2 separate regions of the Homo sapiens genome follow, and region 2 is linked to region 1. A link means that fine-mapping ties the variant in region 1 to the expression of a gene that starts in the linked region. Tissue or cell type: whole blood. Region 1 holds a variant in brackets; the other region holds the start of a gene. All regions are shown on one strand. Distances are between the middles of the regions.

Region 1 (8,099 bases):
ACACAATAGATACTCAACTTGTGGAGCAAATGGCACCTGTCACTGTGGGTGATGATCTCTCTCTCTCCCTCTGTGTACACGCTCCCCACGCACCCATCGACCTCCCTGAGGATGCCTCACTCAGAATAGCAGTTCCATGAGAGCTGGGAACTGCCTATCTTGTTCATACTTGTGCTCTCAGCACGTGTCTGGCACAGAATAGGTACTCAGTAAATATGTGTTGGCTGGATGGAAGGGACCTGAAACAGAGGCCAGGGAGAGTGGGAAGACAGGCCAGTCACTGGCAACAGGCCCGTAATGAGAGGATTCTCGAGGAAGAGAATGGAAAGGTGTCCGCTGGTCATTATGAGGCCCCTAAGATCCTCCTATCTGAACAGAAGAGATGCTCCTTCAGATCTGTTACACATGTACACACGCACACAATCCAGGACCATCACACACCAGTATATAGAAGGAGAGAGCACTGGAAACTGCTGCCAGGTTGATGATGGCATCAGGCTTGACCACTAGGGGCTTCCTGGAGGAGGTGGCCTAGGGCTAGACCAGCACCGGAGCAAAAAAGTTCAGGACATCTCCAGTCAGAGGTAAAGAAGGATGAAGGAAAGAAAGAAGGGGATGTGGCAGAGGTCAGGGAAGGCCCAGGAGAGAGGCAGGGCTGACTGAGGCTAGGACTGAGACTGGGGCTCGTCAAGGTCAGAAGCCTTGGGTTTGGGGTCCAGTAGGACTACACAGGATACAGAGTTGGAGGAAAAGCCTGGATTTTCCCAACCAAAATCCCTAGAGGAAGGAATTTTCTGTGTCTTCCTCTGGGGTTTGCATTGACAGGCACAGGGCAGATGGTCAGTGTTGTCCTCTGATTGAGGGCGCCCAGCGGGAGTGCCGTGGCAGGATCTAATGCCCAAGTTCCCCTCAGAACGTGGCGCCGGGAATGTGATTCAGTGTATAATTCCAGCTGGTACTTTTTTCCCAATAAAAAGAAACGCCTTCATTCTCAAAGAAGATGATTATAAAAGAAAAAAAAAATCTCTTGACTTACAGAAAGAACCATGCCCAAATCTAGTGACCATGGTTCGCACAACATGAAAATCAGATGAGAGGGAGCACGAGTGAAAGAAGCTCAAACACAGGGCGTGAGGTGCCCCTGCCAGCCTCGGTCCCTGACCACACGGCCCCGCCTTTGGCTGGAGGGAGAGCCCTGGCTGTCAGCCGCACGGTGTGGAAAGCCCAGAAGGAAAGCAGTTTTGAAATTTTACTTGTGATTGATACACTTTTGGCCACGTTGGCTATTTTCAGAGCCTAGCTCCCCCATCCTCTGTCACAGACACCTTTGAGTTCTTTAAATGGCTGTATCTTTTGTTGTCATATGGACACATGGTCTTTATAGTACATTCAGACAGAACAGGTTTTGTGAGCAAAGGATATCGAGCTTTTTTCCCTGATATACAAATTGCAAGAGTTCGTTCTCCTCATAAGCCTGTTACTTTCTTATACCTGTGAACGGCACCTCCATCCCCACAGCTGCTCAAGCCCAAAGACGCATTCATAATCTGACCATCCCTTCGGGTGATCAAAGCCATCAGCAATCCCGGGGCCTGCTCTGCTTCAAAAATACTTCTGTCCTTGTTCCCCTCTTTCTACCATCTGGCTTCAGCTCCATGGCTTCTCCATTCCTCTCCAGCTTCTCCAATTCTTTTTCCTCCCAGCAGCCAGAAACCACTTTAATGCCACAGGAAGGATCATGCTACCTCTGTGCTTAAACCCTCCCTGCACACAAAATAAAGCCTGCCTTCATCGCCTGTCCACAAGGCCCGGCCTTGTCTGCCTCCTGACCATCTCTTCAGCCTCCTTGCAGGCCCCTCTCACCCTCTGCACACAATAATCTCTCCTTCCTTGAACATATCAGTGTTGTGTCCGCTTAGGGACTTCGTACTTGCTGTTCCCTCCTTCAGGAACATGCTGCCTCCACATCTTTGCATGGATACCTCCCCCTCACCTTTCAGGATTCTGTTCATATGTCACCTCCTCCAAGAGGCTTTCCTTGAACACCTCTCCCCTCCTCCCTTGCAATATAAATGGCATCCCCAAGTTGCTTGCATTCCACTCTTTTAATTTTCTTCATGGTATTTATCTCTAGCTAAAATTTATTTGTTTACAGATTGACTTTCTCTCTCTAGGATTTCAGGGGAGCAGGAACCTTGCCTGGGTGATTGTCGAGACTGTTGGCCCCATGACTAGTGCTTAGGGTTCAATAAATATTTGTTAAGCGAATGAATAAGTGAATGAATGAATGAATGAATGCTCTAACCCTGCCTTTGCTGAACTTCTAGAGATTGTGCAACCTCTCTTACACAATCAGGAGCTTGGTAACCTTGTTTGCACTCTCATTCCAAGGATTTCAGACTTGCTTTGCCAATCTTGTTGCAGCTCATCAATTCTTGGCAGCCCCACCCCTCCCAGCTGGGCCCAGGACGCACAGTAGGTCCTCAGCGCACACCCATGGGACTGAGTTGGTGAATGTAGCCTGGCTCTTGTCCTGATTATCTGGGTGACTTCAGGCAAGTCAGTATGCCTTTCGTTGTTTATAGTTCTCATCTGTAAAGATAAAGAGGTTTGTACAGATGGTCTCTAAGATTCTGTTTGACTTTCAAAGACCAGAACAGAATTAACCAGTTCAAAAGAAGAGCTGTGGGTGGGTGGGGGTTTTAGGTGGATTGAGAGAGGATGGGTGGGGGTAAGGGAGAGGGTAGTGAGGAGTTTGGAGGGGGATTAAATGGGACTTTCTTCCCAGGGCCTTGAGGACTGGGCTTTGGGGGACTCTCAGGGTGAGGTTTGATCCCTGAAGTTCAGGCTTGGCCCCTTGTTATTTCCTGCTTTCCTGGGGCTGTGGCTGTGGCTGTGGGAGACTTGACCCAAGAACGGACAGCCTCTCTTTTTCTGCTCTGCCATAGAGCAGAGCCCCAGCCTGGAACACACGAGCCCTCTGAAATTACCTGCACAGTCTTGGGGGTATGTGAATGAATGTCCTTTGGGGAAAGAAAGTCCTTATCTTTTATCAGATTCTCCAAGGGATTTCTGCCTTACAAAGTTTAGAAACCTGTATTTAGAAGGCCAGGCTGAACTAAGAAGATAAGTCATAGGAGGAGGAGAAGGAAGAGGAGAGAGGACCCAAATCCTTTTATTTTAAAATGTCTTTTCTGGACCTTAGTTTCCTCATCAGTAAAATTAGAAGTTTGGGTGATCTCTGGTAACATCCAGCATTTAGAATAATAATGCCTAATTTTACTTTGTACATTATCTCCTTTGCTCCTTTCAAAAGCCATGTGACTGTGTTTCTCATCAGCATCCCTGTTTTTCAGGTGACAACACTGAGGTCTGGTGACTCACCCAGGGTCATGCAGCCTGTGAGTGGCAGAGTGAGCC[G/A]GGAACCTGGCTGCTGGCTGAGAAATTTCAGGGCTTCTTCTTTGAGTGCCCAGCAGGATTGCAGCACCACATGGCTCTGGGGCTCTCCCACTGGCCAGTCTGGGCTGAAGGGAATGAAGTGAAGAGAGGGAGTTTCCCCTAAAGGTTGGTTGTTAATGATATTGCAGAAGAGGAAGAGGTGGTAGGAGGAACAGGTCATGCCCAAGTGGAAATCCTCAGCTCCTTCCAGCTGATCTAGAAGGCCTCCTGGACAAGGGGACACTTGGGGAGGTGGGGAACTGGGCCTCAGCTTGGGGAAAGGGAGGCATTCCTAGGCAGCGGAAAGCATCCTTTCTGGTGGGTAATCCAGTATTTATGGTGTTTTTGATGACTGGAATGCGGGTGTGGGTTCCCTATTGGACTTTGGGCTCTGCTGCAGGCCTCAGGCTGGGGAGACATTTTGGAATGTGTCCCTTGCCTTCTAGGGCCACCTTTGGCCTCACCTGCTGTTTACCCTCTTCTTCCTCCCCCTCTTCCCCCCTTGGCAGCCTGAGCTAGTGCCAGGAAATTGTTGGTCAAAGGTGAGGTCACCAAGAACCTGGAAAAACAACAGGTCTCCATTAACCTTGTTTACCTGCCAGGTAACTGTTGCTTTACAAAGGTTCTTTCGCCCCTTCTTTCATTACCTGCATTTCCTGCTCCCGTAAAAGCTCAGATCAGCTGAGCAGATTTTGGTGGGGGGTTCCTTCAAGATAAACCCTCCTGAGAGGCTTTCCACTCTTCTATTTTCTGGCATGTGGTCTGTATCTATTAGGTCATATCTCAGACTGTGTGGTCACCTGAGTTTAGATGCTGGCTGCCCAGCGAGACTGTCAACAACTTGAGGGAAGGGCTGTGTTCATTTACATTCTCAGGGCCTGGCTTCTAATAATGTCTGCTGCTTCAATGGATGGATGACTGAATGAATTAATGAATGAGTGGGATGGATGTCCTGGGTTTCTATTTCAGAACTCACCTCCCCTAGGAGGTCTCCTGGGGTTACTTCCAGCCTATTCTTTGCATCTTATTCCCATCTTTGGTCTGCCTAATCTGTCCTGATTTCTTCATGCTGTTTTTCTCAGAGTTTTTCATAAGGAACCAAAAACAACTGAGCCATGTGGCCCTCTGACAACCTCCCCAGGGCCCTGCAGACAGCAGACTCCTGATCAATGGTCACTAACTGACCAGCTTATGGGATCTGGGCCAAAGGAGAGCCAGGGAGGTCAGATTGTTTCTTGAGGTCACCCAGCTGTGAAAGAACTTGGGCCCATCCTTGGCCAAACCTGCACATCATCACTCAGACCTGGGGCTTCCTTCTGTGTGCAGAGCTGATATTTAAACACCATTGATGTCAATGCATCTATTCACTCAGAAAATATTGGGACCGTGCTTGCTCTGGCTCTCTGTGTTGAAGATGATACAGTTCCTTTACCTCAAAGAGGTCACAAACCAATCAGGGAGATGAGATATTTACCAGAGCAGTTCCTCAGCACTGGAGCCAAAGGTTGGGACAGTCAGAGAAGGCTTCCCAGAGGCGCTGGCACTTGAGGCCCTTGAAAGATTCTTAATCACTTATTTGGTGTAAGCTGTTTAAGAGAGCTTTGCTCATCTTGGTTAGTCCAAGATGTGCCTGTGACCTGTTTGTGGTCCTGGTTCACAAGGAGGAGGGACAGTAGTGGCTATCCCCTGCATCAGCACCCCCTGTTCCATCACTGCTACCGAGGGCTGCAAAGCCACAGGACTAGCTGGCAGTGAGAGGGCCCGTTGCCTGCGTGTAGACACCGGGATCAGAGATTGGCTGAGACACACCAGAGGCCCCACAGTGACCCAGGGCGGAGCAGGGTCTAGAACCTAATAGTCCTGATTCCCACCCCTGTGCTCTCTCCGTGGATGCCACCACCCAGTTGCCTTTACGAGGCCAGTGCCTTCTGTGGGTCAGTACCTTGGGCTCTGGGCTGGGTGCTGGGTGTAGCTGGGGTGGTCCTTACCATGGTCCCCCTTTTCACACGATGGGCATTGAAAGGATAGCCCAGACTGAGACCCTTGTCAGAAGGAGGTGGGGTATGAACAAAGCCTAATGATCCAGGGAGAGAGGATGCCTATCAGAGAGGGTACCACTCCCCTGGACCTGCATGCATAGCGGAGTTACCATTATTCACATGCAGGGCAAGCCTATCAGAGAGGAGTCAGAGGGAGGAAGGCTGACAGAAGTGGCTCTCTGGGATTCCCAGCTGAGGCTCTCGCACTCCCGGGTCTTGTTTTCCCTAACAGCCTCAGGGCACAAAGTCCAGTGGTGTGATTTTGTCATCTCTTCCCAGGGCAGCCTTAAAGGGCCAGTGCCTCCTCTCAGGGTTAATGATTACCTGTTGGGTCACCAATAGACCCAGGTGTCCTTGTGTGTGAAGACGGTTGGGCGGATGGGTGGGAGGTGGTGAAAGAGGGGTGGCCTGCCTGAAGAGGAGGCTGGGGCTTCCTTTAAATACATCCTCATAGAGGCTGCCTCCTGGAGCTCTCCTGGTTAGCCTTGGGTCATGAGGAGGGATCTGTCTTTAATGGCTAACAGCACAGGGAACCAACCTGTAAACCCCAAAGGGAGGGTAAGATTTATCTAGGGTGCTTCCCCCCAGCTCTGACAGGACAGATTCCCACAGTAGGAGGTGGGGGACTCTCCTAGCCGAATGGGAGGTGAGGGTATGTCTTAGACCTCAGAGGGTCAGGCCTTGGCTAGGGCAGGACCCTGGGACCCTTACTATCTCCTTCCCCTATACACATTCATGTCCCACCAGACCTGGAAGGTGCCCCAGTGTGACCCTGACTCGACCCGACCACAGTCGCAGTCTTTCTCCCATCTTCCATCTCTGTCTCACCTCCCAGCCTTGGAAAACACTTATATTAGTAATAGGCACTAATAATGATAACAAAGGCTGCCCTTTGTTGGGTCCTGGGCATAGCACGTAGATTCACTTGTAATCTGTACAAGTGCCCTGTGAGAAGGGTGCATATCACACCCCCATTTTACCAGAGGAGAAGGGAAGCTCAGCTCACATCACTGCTCAAGATCACACAGAGCAAGAGGCAGAGCAGACTTGACCCTGGTCTGTACCGTGTCAAAGTCCATGCTTTTTGCCACCATGGGTGATGGGCTGTGTGCCTGCTGTTTCCCCACCACAGTGGCTCAGCCAGTCCTCCAGAAAGCTTTCAAGGCTTACCACATCCAGCCCATGTCCCCCTCTGCTTCCTCCCCTAGTGAGAATCTATTGGCCCTGAGCTCAGCCAGGCTGGATTCATCTGCCACCACCCTGGGCTCTGTGTCTGCAGGCTGCTTCTGCCTCTGTGCAGCCCGGTGGCTCCCTAGGGGCAGGGCAGGGCCTCTGACTGGCAGGGAGGAGGCACAGAGATGGACAAGATTATCCTCTCAGGAAAGCAGCTGCAGAAAGCGCTGTTTCTCCTTCTGGGAAGGCTTTATCTCAAGCTAGTGCTCCTTTCCTCCTTGTGATTCACAGACCTCTCATGATAGTTTGAACGTGTCTTGTTTCAAGTGTTCAAATCTAAAGACTTCCATCAGATTCCTGACCGCGGCTTTTTCACAGTTATTATCTGTGTCATAACATTGCATACTTGCGGCTTATCATTTTCCAAGCTCTGCATACGGGTTTGGCAGAGCAGGTTTCACTGATCCCACTAGACAGGTGAGGAAACTGAACCCTAGAGCAGGGAAGTGACACATCTAGAACACGGCCAGGCTTGGTGGCTGAGGCCAGCTCTGCCGTCACACACTTGGCTCTCCCCGGTGCTGCTTTCTTTGCTGCCTCTGCTGTGTCTGCATCAAGGAGACTTTCTCCTCTGAGGCTGGCTGGCCTTGGAGTTATACTTTGCGCCTAGCTGCTTCTTCTATTTTTTTAAAGATGTGTTTTATTGAGGTAAAATACATGTAACAAAATGTACCCTCTTAGTCGTTTTTAAATGTACAGTTCAGTGGTATTAAGTACATTCACATCGCTGTGTAACCATCACTACCATGCATCTCTAGGACTCTTCATCTTGCAAAACTGAAGCTCTGTATTAAACACTAACTCCCCATTCCCCTCCCTCCAGTCCCTGGCAACCACCATTTTACTTTCAGTTACTATGAATTTGACTATCCCATGTATCTCAAATAAGTGGAATCACACAGTATTTGTCTTTGTGTGACTGGCTTATTTCACTTAGCATGATGTCCTCGAGGTTCATTTATGCCGTAGCCTGTGTCAGAATTCCTTCGTTTTTCACCTGGGCAACATAGTGAGAACCCCCTATCTATAAAAACAAAAAACAAAACAAAACAAAACAAAAAAACAAAAAGAAAGAAAGAAAAAGAAAAGAAAAAAGAAAAAAAATTGCTGAGTGCGGTGGTGTGCCTGTGATCTCAGCTATTCAGGAGGCTGAGGTGGGAGCATGGTTTGGGCCCAGGAGGTTGAGGCTGTCGTGGGCTGCAATCATGCGATGGCACGCCAGCCTGGGCAACAGAACAAGAGCCTATCTCAAAAAAAAAAAAGGAATTTCTTCATTTTAAATATTTTAAATGTTAAATAATCTTGCTTGTCCTTTTATCTATTGATGGACCCTTGGGTTGCCTCCAGCTTCGGGTTATTGTGAATAATGCTGCTATGAACATGGGTGTA
Region 2 (8,099 bases), 34 kb before region 1:
GTTGGGGAGATGCAATTCATCAGGGACAGCTTAGTGTCAGGGGATTAGACTGGGGCCCATGAAGGAGAGGCAGAGGCTGATGGGCCTAGGGGTGGTGTGGGTAGGTGAGCTTCCCCAGACAGTGACTCTGCCCTGCCCTCTCTCCAGCTAGGTCCTCTTCCCCATTCCTTCCCCCTTTCCTGACTGGATCCTCTTGGGAGAGTTACCCTCCTTGGCTTCCTCTGCTCCAATCTTTTTATCAGTTGGCCATCATTACTTATCATTACCTCAAGTCAAACCTCCAGATCCACATGGGGCTAGGACATTGGCACTGGACCAAAGAGGCCCTTTCCTTTGCTTTCTCTTTGTCTTTTTAATGCTTTGTTGCAAAGACCTAGGCGGGGAGAGAGAGAGAGAGAGAGAGACAGAGATTGACCCACAGTCAGGGTCAGGGAATTGAGGGGAACCAACCCAATTCTCTCTCCTTCAATTCACCAGGTTTGTATCCTGCCCTTCCTGCAGATCAGTGTCCTGCTAGTCACCTGGGGGTCAGGGGATGGAGTGAAGGACAAGACCTCCTTCCATTGCAGTGAAGCCACTTGGAGAAATGTGTGGAAAACAGCAAGACCCAGTGACTCTCTCCTCACCTTCTTTCCAATCTCAGGAGAGATTTTGTCCCTTCATCCACCGGCTTCTAGATTAACCACCCACACCCACACAGGCGAGAGTTTCCCTGAATATTGGAGGTGACAGGACATCAGGACAAAGTACAACTATTGTGCCTTGGCCCAATCACTACTTTCTTTGTCTGGGGCCGCCGCTGGCTCCTGGCTGCCTTTCGCACTTTTCTCCACCCCCACCCCTTTCTCCCCTTCCCCCTCACCTGGAACACCTTCCCCTTCCTCCTTGGCTCCTTCTGAACTGCCTTCAGAGCCACAGACTGTGGGGAGTGGCCACTGCGCTCCCAAGGTGAGGCCCTCCAAGCGGGGCCGAGTTTGCCCCTCAACTGGGAGCCAGCATGACCTCTGTGTGGGCTGCTCTCTGCTTCACTGCCCCTTCCCCCAATCTGCTAGGTGACCCTGGGCCCCTTTGTGCCCTCTCTGGGCCTTCGGAGGATTCTTTGGGGAGACAGTCTGCTCTGACGCCCCTTCCCCTGCAGCAAGCAGCCTGGGGAGGGAGGTGAGGATAAGTGAAGTCAAGTTGTTCAGGGGGCTAAGCCCATGGAAGGGAAGATGCCACAGAGATACATGTGGTCTTGTGATTGTTGTTTTGTGCTTTTTCCCCTTTTTTGAAAGCTCAGGTGACTAGGTGACTTGAGCTTTTAATTTGGTGACAATGTGGGCACTGGCTGAGTCCTTAAGAGTACATTGTTGTAAATGCCGGTGACAACACACTGGGGCATGGGATCCAGAGTTAACCCCTCCAGGTCACAGCCAGGTTATATCTCCACAATGAAGGGGGGAGGTGGGCCATACTTTCTCGCCCTAATGAAGGTAGCTCAAAAACCCCTAGGCCAGGTTGTAATCCTAGCCTTATATAAAAGGAATTCTGTGCCCTCACTCCCCTGGATCCCTGGGCAAAGCCCCAGAGGGAAACACAAACAGGTTGTTGTAACACACCTTGCTGGGTACCACCATGGAGGACAGTTGGCTTATGGGGGTGGGGGGTGCCTGGGGCCACGGAGTGACTGGTGATGGCTATCCCTCCTTGGAACCCCTCCAGCCTCCTCTTAGCTTCAGATTTGTTTATTTGTTTTTTACTAAGACCTGCTCTTTCAGGTCTGTTGGCTCTTTTAGGGGCTGAAGAAGGCCGAGTTGAGAAGGGATGCAAGGGAGGGGGCCAGAATGAGCCCTTAGGGCTCAGAGCCTCCATCCTGCCCCAAGATGTCTACAGCTTGTGCTCCTGGGGTGCTAGAGGCGCACAAGGAGGAAAGTTAGTGGCTTCCCTTCCATATCCCGTTCATCAGCCTAGAGCATGGAGCCCAGGTGAGGAGGCCTGCCTGGGAGGGGGCCCTGAGCCAGGAAATAAACATTTACTAACTGTACAAAGACCTTGTCCCTGCTGCTGGGGAGCCTGCCAAGTGGTGGAGACAGGACTAGTGCACGAATGATGGAAAGGGAGGGTTGGGGTGGGTGGGAGCCAGCCCTTTTCCTCATAAGGGCCTTAGGACACCATACCGATGGAACTGGGGGTACTGGGGAGGTAACCTAGCACCTCCACCAAACCACAGCAACATGTGCTGAGGATGGGGCTGACTAGGTAAGCTCCCTGGAGCGTTTTGGTTAAATTGAGGGAAATTGCTGCATTCCCATTCTCAGTCCATGCCTCCACAGAGGCTATGCCAGCTGTAGGCCAGACCCTGGCAAGATCTGGGTGGATAATCAGACTGACTGGTCCCACTCTTCCCACAGGCCTCAGAGCCCCAACTTTGTTCCCTGGGGCAGCCTGGAAATAGCCAGGTCAGAAACCAGCTAGGAATTTTTCCAAGCTGCTTCCTATATGCAAGAATGGGATGGGGCCTTTGGGAGCACTTAGGGAAGATGTGGAGAGTTGGAGGAAAAGGGGGCTTGGAGGTAAGGGAGGGGACTGGGGGAAGGATAGGGGAGAAGCTGTGAGCCTGGAGAAGTAGCCAAGGGATCCTGAGGGAATGGGGGAGCTGAGACGAAACCCCCATTTCTATTCAGAAGATGAGCTATGAGTCTGGGCTTGGGCTGATAGAAGCCTTGGCCCCTGGCCTGGTGGGAGCTCTGGGCAGCTGGCCTACAGACGTTCCTTAGTGCTGGCGGGTAGGTTTGAATCATCACGCAGGCCCTGGCCTCCACCCGCCCCCACCAGCCCCCTGGCCTCAGTTCCCTGGCAACATCTGGGGTTGGGGGGGCAGCAGGAACAAGGGCCTCTGTCTGCCCAGCTGCCTCCCCCTTTGGGTTTTGCCAGACTCCACAGTGCATACGTGGGCTCCAACAGGTCCTCTTCCCTCCCAGTCACTGACTAACCCCGGAACCACACAGCTTCCCGTTCTCAGCTCCACAAACTTGGTGCCAAATTCTTCTCCCCTGGGAAGCATCCCTGGACACTTCCCAAAGGACCCCAGTCACTCCAGCCTGTTGGCTGCCGCTCACTTTGATGTCTGCAGGCCAGATGAGGGCTCCAGATGGCACATTGTCAGAGGGACACACTGTGGCCCCTGTGCCCAGCCCTGGGCTCTCTGTACATGAAGCAACTCCAGTCCCAAATATGTAGCTGTTTGGGAGGTCAGAAATAGGGGGTCCAGGAGCAAACTCCCCCCACCCCCTTTCCAAAGCCCATTCCCTCTTTAGCCAGAGCCGGGGTGTGCAGACGGCAGTCACTAGGGGGCGCTCGGCCACCACAGGGAAGCTGGGTGAATGGAGCGAGCAGCGTCTTCGAGAGTGAGGACGTGTGTGTCTGTGTGGGTGAGTGAGTGTGTGCGTGTGGGGTTGAGGGCGTTGGAGCGGGGAGAAGGCCAGGGGTCACTCCAGGATTCCAATAGATCTGTGTGTCCCTCTCCCCACCCGTCCCTGTCCGGCTCTCCGCCTTCCCCTGCCCCCTTCAATATTCCTAGCAAAGAGGGAACGGCTCTCAGGCCCTGTCCGCACGTAACCTCACTTTCCTGCTCCCTCCTCGCCAATGCCCCGCGGGCGCGTGTCTCTGGACAGAGTTTCCGGGGGCGGATGGGTAATTTTCAGGCTGTGAACCTTGGTGGGGGTCGAGCTTCCCCTTCATTGCGGCGGGCTGCGGGCCAGGCTTCACTGAGCGTCCGCAGAGCCCGGGCCCGAGCCGCGTGTGGAAGGGCTGAGGCTCGCCTGTCCCCGCCCCCCGGGGCGGGCCGGGGGCGGGGTCCCGGCGGGGCGGAGCCATGCGCCCCCCCCTTTTTTTTTTAAAAGTCGGCTGGTAGCGGGGAGGATCGCGGAGGCTTGGGGCAGCCGGGTAGCTCGGAGGTCGTGGCGCTGGGGGCTAGCACCAGCGCTCTGTCGGGAGGCGCAGCGGTTAGGTGGACCGGTCAGCGGACTCACCGGCCAGGGCGCTCGGTGCTGGAATTTGATATTCATTGATCCGGGTTTTATCCCTCTTCTTTTTTCTTAAACATTTTTTTTTAAAACTGTATTGTTTCTCGTTTTAATTTATTTTTGCTTGCCATTCCCCACTTGAATCGGGCCGACGGCTTGGGGAGATTGCTCTACTTCCCCAAATCACTGTGGATTTTGGAAACCAGCAGAAAGAGGAAAGAGGTAGCAAGAGCTCCAGAGAGAAGTCGAGGAAGAGAGAGACGGGGTCAGAGAGAGCGCGCGGGCGTGCGAGCAGCGAAAGCGACAGGGGCAAAGTGAGTGACCTGCTTTTGGGGGTGACCGCCGGAGCGCGGCGTGAGCCCTCCCCCTTGGGATCCCGCAGCTGACCAGTCGCGCTGACGGACAGACAGACAGACACCGCCCCCAGCCCCAGCTACCACCTCCTCCCCGGCCGGCGGCGGACAGTGGACGCGGCGGCGAGCCGCGGGCAGGGGCCGGAGCCCGCGCCCGGAGGCGGGGTGGAGGGGGTCGGGGCTCGCGGCGTCGCACTGAAACTTTTCGTCCAACTTCTGGGCTGTTCTCGCTTCGGAGGAGCCGTGGTCCGCGCGGGGGAAGCCGAGCCGAGCGGAGCCGCGAGAAGTGCTAGCTCGGGCCGGGAGGAGCCGCAGCCGGAGGAGGGGGAGGAGGAAGAAGAGAAGGAAGAGGAGAGGGGGCCGCAGTGGCGACTCGGCGCTCGGAAGCCGGGCTCATGGACGGGTGAGGCGGCGGTGTGCGCAGACAGTGCTCCAGCCGCGCGCGCTCCCCAGGCCCTGGCCCGGGCCTCGGGCCGGGGAGGAAGAGTAGCTCGCCGAGGCGCCGAGGAGAGCGGGCCGCCCCACAGCCCGAGCCGGAGAGGGAGCGCGAGCCGCGCCGGCCCCGGTCGGGCCTCCGAAACCATGAACTTTCTGCTGTCTTGGGTGCATTGGAGCCTTGCCTTGCTGCTCTACCTCCACCATGCCAAGGTAAGCGGTCGTGCCCTGCTGGCGCCGCGGGCCGCTGCGAGCGCCTCTCCCGGCTGGGGACGTGCGTGCGAGCGCGCGCGTGGGGGCTCCGTGCCCCACGCGGGTCCATGGGCACCAGGCGTGCGGCGTCCCCCTCTGTCGTCTTAGGTGCAGGGGGAGGGGGCGCGCGCGCTAGGTGGGAGGGTACCCGGAGAGAGGCTCACCGCCCACGCGGGCCCTGCCCACCCACCGGAGTCACCGCACGTACGATCTGGGCCGACCAGCCGAGGGCGGGAGCCGGAGGAGGAGGCCGAGGGGGCTGGGCTTGCGTTGCCGCTGCCGGCTGAAGTTTGCTCCCGGCCGCTGGTCCCGGACGAACTGGAAGTCTGAGCAGCGGGGGCGGGAGCCAGAGACCAGTGGGCAGGGGGTGCTCGGACCTTGGACCGCGGGAGGGCAGAGAGCGTGGAGGGGGCAGGGCGCAGGAGGGAGAGGGGGCTTGCTGTCACTGCCACTCGGTCTCTTCAGCCCTCGCCGCGAGTTTGGGAAAAGTTTTGGGGTGGATTGCTGCGGGGACCCCCCCTCCCTGCTGGGCCACCTGCGCCGCGCCAACCCCGCCCGTCCCCGCTCGCGTCCCGCTCGGTGCCCGCCCTCCCCCGCCCGGCCGGGTGCGCGCGGCGCGGAGCCGATTACATCAGCCCGGGCCTGGCCGGCCGCGTGTTCCCGGAGCCTCGGCTGCCCGAATGGGGAGCCCAGAGTGGCGAGCGGCACCCCTCCCCCCGCCAGCCCTCCGCGGGAAGGTGACCTCTCGAGGTAGCCCCAGCCCGGGGATCCAGAGAACCATCCCTACCCCTTCCTACTGTCTCCAGACCCTACCTCTGCCCAGTGCTAGGAGGAATTTCCTGACGCCCCTTCTCTTCACCCATTTCCTTTTTAGCCTGGAGAGAAGCCCCTGTCACCCCGCTTATTTTCATTTCTCTCTGCGGAGAAGATCCATCTAACCCCTTTCTGGCCCCAGAGTCCAGGGAAAGGATGATCACTGTCAGAAGTCGTGGCGCGGGAGCCCACTGGGCGCTTTGTCACATTCCACCGAAAGTCCCGACTTGGTGACAGTGTGCTTCCCTTCCCTCGCCAACAGTTCCGAGTGAGCTGTGCTTTAGCTCTCGTGGGGGTGGGTCAAGGGAGGATTTGAAGAGTCATTGCCCCACTTTACCCTTTTGGAGAAATGGCTTGAAATTTGCTGTGACACGGGCAGCATGGGAATAGTCCTTCCTGAACCCTGGAAAGGAGCTCCTGCCAGCCTTGCACACACTTTGTCCTGGTGAAAGGCAGCCCTGGAGCAGGTGTTTTTTTGGAACTCCAAACCTGCCCACCCAACTTGCTTCTGAAAGGGACTCTAAAGGGTCCCTTTCCGCTCCTCTCTGACGCCTTCCCTCAGCCAGAATTCCCTTGGAGAGGAGGCAAGAGGAAAGCCATGGACAGGGGTCGCTGCTAACACCGCAAGTTCCTCAGACCCTGGCACAAAGGCCTTGGCTACAGGCCTCCAAGTAGGGAGGAGGGGGAGGAGTGGCTGCCTGGCCACAGTGTGACCTTCAGAGGCCCCCAGAGAAGGACACCTGGCCCCTGCCTGCCTAGAACCGCCCCTCCTGTGCTCCCTGGCCTTGGAAGGGGTATGAAATTTCCGTCCCCTTTCCTCCTTGGGGCCCAGGAGGAGTGGAGGGTCCCGGGAGAATATTGTCAGGGGGAAGGCAGGGGGTGTCATGGGAATGGGTGAGGGGGCTGAGGTGCAGAATCCAGGGGGTCCCTGCAGGAGCCGCAGTGGTAAGCTGTCCAGCTGGAAGCCTGGTAACTGTTGTTTTCTCTTGAGAGGGGCTTCCTGTGACCTTGGCTGTCTCTGGGAGCAGGGCTGGGGTACCTGAGTGGGGTGCATTTGGGGTGTGTGGGAAGGAGAGGGAAAGAAAGATGGACAGTGGGACTCTCCCCTAGCAGGGTCTGGTGTTCCGTAGGCTAGAGTGCCCCTCTGCTCTGCGAGTGCTGGGCGGGAGGGGAGTTGGTGAGAGCTGGAGACCCCCAGGAAGGGCTGGCAGAAGCCTTTCCTTTTGGGTGCTGTCAGGTCCGCATGTCTTGGCGTGTTGACCTTCACAGCTTCTGGCGAGGGGAGGAATGATCTGATGCGGGTGGGGAGGGTTAGAGGAGGCCTCAGGCCTAAGGTGGTGCAGGGGGCCCCCTAGGGGCTGGGCAGTGCCAAGGCATAAAAGCCTTCCCTGGTCCCTGGTGGCATTTGAAGGTGCCCAGGTGAGAGGGGCTTGGCACCTCCTCACCCTGGGAGGGAGAAGAAACCAGGGAACAGGTAGGAGTGGGAGACAGGTGAGGCTTTGGAAATCTATTGAGGCTCTGGAGAGATTTGTGTAGAGAGGAAAATGTGGTTCTCCCCCAGGGTCTCCTCCTGGGTTTTTACCCTCTAAGCAACCTGTGGGCATGCTGGGTTATTCCTAAGGACTAGAAGAGCTTGGATGGGGGAGGGTGGTTGGTGCCCTTCGGTCCTCGGCACCCCCCTCCGTCTCCAACACCAGCTCACCCTGGTATTTGTCATGTCAGCAGGAGAAGGTCACCATGTTGTTTTTCTCGCCCCTAGTCCTTCCTTCCTGCCCCAGTCCAAATTTGTCCTCCTATTTGACCTTAATACTTACCATGGCTTTGGACCAGGGAACTAGGGGGATAGTGAGAGCAGGGAGAGGGAAGTGTGGGGAAGGTACAGGGGACCTCGACAGTGAAGCATTCTGGGGTTTTCCTCCTGCATTTCGAGCTCCCCAGCCCCCAACATCTGGTTAGTCTTTAACTTCCTCGGGTTCATAACCATAGCAGTCCAGGAGTGGTGGGCATATTCTGTGCCCGTGGGGACCCCCGGTTGTGTCCTGTTCGACTCAGAAGACTTGGAGAAGCCAGAGGCTGTTGGTGGGAGGGAAGTGAGGAGGGAGGAGGGGCTGGGTGGCTGGGCCTGTGCACCCCAGCCCCTGCCCATGCCCATGCCTTGCTCTCTTTCTGTCCTCAGTGGTCCCAGGCTGCACCCATGGCAGAAGGAGGAGGGCAGAATCATCACGAAGGTGAGTCCCCCTGG

The links. PIP is the estimated chance that this variant, and not a neighbour inherited with it, causes the effect.
Region 2: it holds the start of VEGFA, and the variant in region 1 is fine-mapped to the expression of VEGFA in whole blood (INTERVAL, PIP 0.96).

The regions. Positions count from the first base shown.
Region 1 is chr6:43,800,795-43,808,893 of GRCh38, forward strand. All of the region lies in intron 1 of LOC105375070 (a long non-coding RNA gene), which reads left to right. Among named protein-coding and RNA genes, the nearest start is that of VEGFA, 35 kb to the left of the region's middle. RefSeq lists a silencer at 6,798-7,092. The variant G/A (reference allele first, on the strand shown) is at 3,421.
Region 2 is chr6:43,766,308-43,774,406 of GRCh38, forward strand. VEGFA (vascular endothelial growth factor A) reads left to right here and starts at 3,904. Exons shown (of 8, transcript NM_003376.6): 1 at 3,904-5,005; 2 at 8,034-8,085. The coding sequence starts at 4,400. RefSeq lists silencers at 3,717-3,966, 4,344-5,283, 5,354-5,873 and enhancers at 4,329-5,094, 5,095-5,860, 5,861-6,626, 6,627-7,392.